Regions from separate parts of the Homo sapiens genome. Here region 1 is linked to region 2. The links come from fine-mapping of genetic effects on gene expression. A gene starts in region 2. The other region holds a variant in brackets. All regions are shown on one strand. Distances are between the middles of the regions.

Evidence for each region.
Region 1: its variant is fine-mapped to the expression of ATP8A2 in cerebellum (GTEx, PIP above 0.99). The same link has a PIP of 0.9 or more in cerebellar hemisphere.

The regions. Positions count from the first base shown.
Region 1 is chr13:26,016,983-26,019,892 of GRCh38, forward strand. It overlaps ATP8A2 (ATPase phospholipid transporting 8A2), which reads left to right. Exons shown (of 37, transcript NM_016529.6): 37 at 2,906-2,910. Among named protein-coding and RNA genes, the nearest start is that of SHISA2, 34 kb to the right of the region's middle. The variant G/A (reference allele first, on the strand shown) is at 1,554.
Region 2 is chr13:25,370,831-25,373,740 of GRCh38, forward strand. ATP8A2 (ATPase phospholipid transporting 8A2) reads left to right here and starts at 1,144. Exons shown (of 37, transcript NM_016529.6): 1 at 1,144-1,458. The coding sequence starts at 1,383.

The DNA of each region.
Region 1 (2,910 bases), 650 kb after region 2:
GACTAGAACCACCCTTTGTTTCCTGGCCACCACCCTGACCCCATGCTGCAGCCACTTGGGGCCACCAGAATCTAAGATGAAAACAAGCGAGTGGAGAAAGACATCTTCAGGGTGGAGAGCTCAGTAGTCCTCAGCTTCCCACCGGAAGAGTTTATAAAAGAGTATGTCCCATTCTTTGGGGTGACTGTTCTTTACTCAGAACCACTTCTGTAGGACTGAGGAGCAGCCCCGGGAGTGGTGCAGCAGCTGTGGAGCCAGTGACGACCCTGCCATTGCAGCTGCTGTTCTGCCAGGCCCCCTCAGGATGACTTCAGATGTGGACTAGAAACGTTCCTTGTTAAAGAACTGGAGAATGGAAATTGTCCAAGTTGACCACAGTACATAGCCTTGTTACTGGAGCAGACGAAGCAGTGTTATTTGCTAGATTTTGCTTTGAAACATCCCAAGGAAAGACGTCTCCTCTTGGACTGCAGTAAAAATGCTTCATAAAGGGCAGCTTGTACAGGATTGGGGATGAGAGTGTGTGTGCCACACGGTGCCAGAGGGAGGCAGGAGGCTGGGGCAGCTCCTCCAAAGCTGGGCAACGGAGGTTTCCTTGTCCCTGCTGCTAATCTCTGATTAAGCAACTTGGTGAAAATCCAAAAGCTCTTAGGAGAACAGGAGTGGTGGCATTTGCTCTTCGGTGCTTGAAAGCAGATCATGTGAAAACTCTAAAGCCCTGAGAATCAAAGCACAGCCACCTACCTGGTCAGGAAGTTCAAGTGCACTAGGTGTGGGCCCAAGGCTGGCACAAGCATATCCGCCCCCAAGGGAGCTCCCCTCCAGGCTGATGCTGCCTTCAGGCTCAGACACCCACCTGCTCCTGTACCCAGCTGTCTGAGGGCTCACAATGGTCTGGGAGCTGCTTCACTGTGGCTACCATGTGGTGGGAATTTTTGGTTTGTAGGTTTTGTTTTGCTAGAAATGGAGGTGAGCAAGTAGACAAAAGCCCCCTGTGGAAGATTCCTCTCTGTTCTGTTCTCTTCTGTTCTGTTCACCCTGGCTCAGCTTGTATCACCTTCTCTCCCGCCCACTGTCTCTTCCTCCTGTGGCCTCACTGGTCTGGGCCCTCCTCCCTGCTGCTCAGCCCATGTCCTCAGTCAACTCTCAGGCCACCTCTGCAGACAAGCCCTTGCCTCCCCCGATAACCCCCCTGAGCCTTTGGGATTCTCAGGCAGTGGCCAGAAGGCATGCTCTCTGGAAGAGCCAGGAAGCCAGCCCAGGACCGGGACTCTCAGTTATGGGAACACACAGAGTAAGAAAACAGCCTGAGTGTCTTCTTTTAAAGTCTCCTCCTCTTCTCCATCCCACGAGGACTCTTCTGTCTTGTTACTGTATGTCTTGATACTCTAGAAATTTCCTTTTTAAGCCAGATGCCTCAGGAAATTAACAGGCAGTCCAGGAACTGATTCATGGGCACCCTTTTCGACTTCTTTTCTCCTTTTAAAGAGTATGACAGTGAACTCACAGCTCCCCTGATAAGTTGTACGCATGCATGGATGGAATTCAAGATT[G/A]TCAGGTTTTTTTATTGTGTTGTCTTTTGGCCAGAATGTCTAATTGAGCTGTGGGACTTTTCCAGACCCCTGACACAGAAGGGTTAGCCAATGGAGAGCAGGCCTTATAAATGTCTTTCTGTGGGAAGGGCCAGTTGGAAGAAAAGCCCCACTCTGGGCTTGTGAACACTAAAGCTGGTTCTCAGCTCTAGAGTGTGGACCCTGGGTTTGCTTCCCAGCTCTGCCACTCACGAGGTCTGTGACCTTGGGCAGGTCACAAAAATCTCTGTGCCTCAGTTTTCTCATCTGTGAAGTGGGAGGAGTATAATCCCCTATCTCATAGGGTTTCTGGGAGGATTAAATGAGCTTTATTTTATAGCACAGTGTCTTAGACACATGGCATTTAATGAGTCTTGGCTATTATTTATTTTATTAATAGTATATGAACTGATTGTGTAAGAATAGTCTTTGTATGGCCACAGGTCCAATCAATCACTAAATTCCTTTTGAGTTTATTGTGTAACCTTTTTCTTTACATGGAAACAACCCTACTTTGATTACTTATTACCAGTCCAGATCAGTCTGATTTAAAAACAGGGCTGGGTGTGGTGGCTCAGGCCTGTAATCCCAGCACTTTGGGAGGCCAAGGTGGACAGATTGCTTGAGGTCAGGAGTTTGAGACCAGCCTGGCCAACATGGTGAAACCCCGTCTCTACTAAAAATACAAAAAAAAATAGCTGGGCGTGGTGGTGCATGCCTGTAGCCCTAGCTACTCAAGAGGCTGAAGCAGGAGAATTGCTTGAACCCTGGAGGCAGAAGTTGCAGTGAGCTGGGATCGCGCCACTGCACTCCAGCCTAGGCGGCAGAGCAAGACTCTGTCTCAAATAAATAAACAGGAAGGCTCCAGGTATCACGTGCATTTTGCCAGCTTGCACTATTAGTGTTGTGTGTGTGTTTCCCTGGCATGTTTACAGCTTCATAAATTAGCTGGCTGCCCTACAGCATCAGGCAGACAGGAGTGTTTTTTCTTAATTGGCAGTGGGAAAGTGGAGTCGGGGACCAGTGACCCACTGTGTGTGATTCCCACACTGAGCTCAGCCGCAGCCCCCTAGAAATAGGAAACCTACCCTCAGAGGCTTTCCCTTCCCAGCATCAGCAGCTAGAACCATGGGACCCCAGTTAGCCTGCACACGGCCGCCACGGCCCCTCTATGGCCACAGGTTTCTTCATCTCAAGCCTCCACCTATCCAAGGCTAAGGAGGCCAGATGTCGCACTCACCCGCACGCTGCCAAAAAAAAGCAGCTTATTTTAAACCTAGTGTGCTCCCCCAATTCTCCTGTTAACCAGTTTCTCCTGTGTGCTTCACTTTCAGATGGG
Region 2 (2,910 bases):
GTAATCCCAGCTACTCGGGAGGCTGAGACACAAGAATCACTTGAACCCGGGCGACGGAGGTTGCAGTGGGCCGAGATAGCGCCATTGCACTCCAGCCTGGGCAACAAGAGCAAAACTCTGTCAAAGAAAAAAAAAAAGTAAAAGAAAATAAAATCAGATGCAGAGGCCAGGCAGGAGGAGCTCAGGCCGCACTGCTGTCTTTGCTAGCACAGATTCTTTTTGCTGAACTCTGTACTACTCCTTGTCAGTCCCTAATGTTAATTTAGGTTAAAAGAAATGTAATGCTCGCATCAGTAAAAGCAAGGTCAGACTTTCACCTGAACAGTTTTATTTTTGTTTTGTTCCGTTTTTACTCCGAGGTCAGAATGTCATCAGGCACAATAAAGATAGCTTCTTATCTTCATGGGATTGTGCCCAGAAAGACCAAGCACAGTCTAAACATTACGCGATAAGAAAAAACAAAAAATAGATCAAGTGACCTTGGACAAGTCATCTTACCTCTCGATGGTTTTGTTTTATGAAAGAAGGTGTGTGTGTGTGTGTGTCGATGGGTGTGTGTGTGTGTGTGTCGATGGGTCTGTGTGTGTGTGTGTGTGTGTCGATGGGTGTGTGTGTGTGTGTGTGTGCGTGCGGGGGTTGAGAAGGTTGCTGTTAAGGTTCCCTAGGGCTACCTGCAGCTTTAATATGCGTAGTTAGAATGTCAGGCAGGTTGTGGAGAGTGGGGGGCTGGAGACCCCCGACTTCTCTGAGTGCCAAGCCACACATCAGACACCTTGGAAATAACCCTTCCACGAAGTCCCTACACAGATCCCACCAGGCTGGGCACGGAAGAACAGAAACTGCGAAAAGAAAGGGACTGGATGAGTCCTGGGGAATCACAGCGCCTCCACTTGCACAGGACAAGTGACAGGCAGGTAAATAGGTAGCAGACAGGCAGAGACTCCGAGTCCCCCAGGTGCACCCCTCTCCTGGAAGAGCCCCCGAAAGTACAGGCCCAATCTCCCACCCCACCAAGCCCTCCCCATCGCCTTCCCCGACACCTAAAAGCCCCGGTCCTGCGTAATATTGCGGATCCCTCCCAGCCTCCCGTCCGCTCCTCCTCCCGCGGGGCTCCGCTCAGGGCCGGTCCCCCGCCCCCACGCCGCAGCCCGGGCCAGCGGGGCCCGCCGCGGTGGCGTTCGCGGATGCTGCCGCATTGGCCGCTGCGGCACGGACGGCGCAGCCTCGGGCGCGGCCCGGCACAGGCGCCGGCGGTCCCCGCCAGCTAGCAGCCCGGCGAGGCGCTGGCCCACCCATGGTCCTCGGGCGGCGGCCCCTGCGCCCAGCCCTGCGCGTAGCCTCCGTCTCTCGCCCGGGGCCGCCGAGCCCCCGACACGGGCGAGATGCTGAACGGCGCAGGCCTGGACAAAGCTCTTAAGATGTCCCTGCCGCGGAGGTCGAGGATCCGCTCGTCCGTGGGTGAGCTGGGAGGGGCGCGGCGAGGGAGGGTGGGCCCGGGGCGGGGGCGGCGCGGGGCGCGCCTGCGGTTATGCGACACTGCCCCGCCCGCGCCCCGCTCCCCTCCCTGGGCTCCCTGGGCTCTCTGGGCTGCAGGATCCGCCGACGCGGCGCGCTGGCCGCACGGGGGCTGGGCGTCGCTGCACCTGCGGGGCCAAAAGGCTCCAGGCCGGGGCGAGGTGAGCGGCGGGCGTCAGAGACCCCCGGCTCGTCCCTGTACAGATGTGTGTGTGTGTGTGCGGCCTCCCTGTGCGCGTGCCCGTGCGCCCCTACGCGCGGATGCGGCTCAGGGATGCGACCTAGGCGGCAGTCACCGCGATGGTGGGCACGGTTTGGCGGCGCAGAGAAGATGCAGCCTTCCCTGCCGGCGGCCGGCACCGCTGTGCTGCAGAGCTCAAAAGCAGAGGGGGAAAAAGGCATCCGAAGGGTCCCTCGAGTGATTCTCACCACTTGGAGCCCCGGGTCCTCGCGCGCTCACAGCGGCGACGTACTGGCTCATAACCATCCGTGCATACAACCATCTGGAGACGAACACACACACGCACACGCGCGCGCACACACACACACAGGTACACACACACGTACACACGCACGCGTACACATACCCTGCCTGCAGGCGCCTGGGTGTTGGAACTCGAAACCTAAAGCCAAACACGCATGTACCATACCCGACCACTCACACTGTTAGAGGCCCGCGTTCTATGATTATAGAACACATTTAGAAACTATGATGTCGTGGAGCTGGATGTTATGTGGCTATGACACTTGATAGGGTTACCTAGACCATTAGTTAATGCAGACGTAAAGAGGAGCCCCAAAAATGATTTCTTACCGTTTCAGGACTGCGGCAAGTTTGCAGGTAGATCTTTGACATGAGGAAGGTAGAGGGTGTACAGTTTGGAGCTGGGGTCACTTGTCTTCGTGCTTTTTTATTTGTTTTGAGAAAATAGGCACATAAAAATAAGCGACTTTTGTATTTCTGTAGTTGAGTAACGTGAGAGGGAAGCAAGCTTATCAGGTAATTTAAGCCAATGTTTGTTAAACTTGGGTAAAGTCAGGACACTTTCACATTCATTTTGAGGAGAATCCCAGCCTGAAGGGGTCACGGGGTGCAGGGTCAAGACTAAATAGCAGGGAAGAGCTGTGGCAGAGAGACAGTGGGAGGGCGCAGTCATACAGGTGTGAGAATTTCCCAAGGTGGAGGCAGCCTGAGGAGACCTGGGGACACCCTCTGTACCTTTGCAGGTGGGGCCAAAGGCATTTGCTTATGATTTGGATGTGGGGCTTCAGTACAAGAAAAGAATCAAAGATGCCCCCAAGGGTTTTGGTCTGAGACACCGGAAGAATGCACCCCTTGCTGAGATGGGGAAACTGCGGAGGACCAGGGTTCTCTTTTGCGGTAAGGGAGGGTGT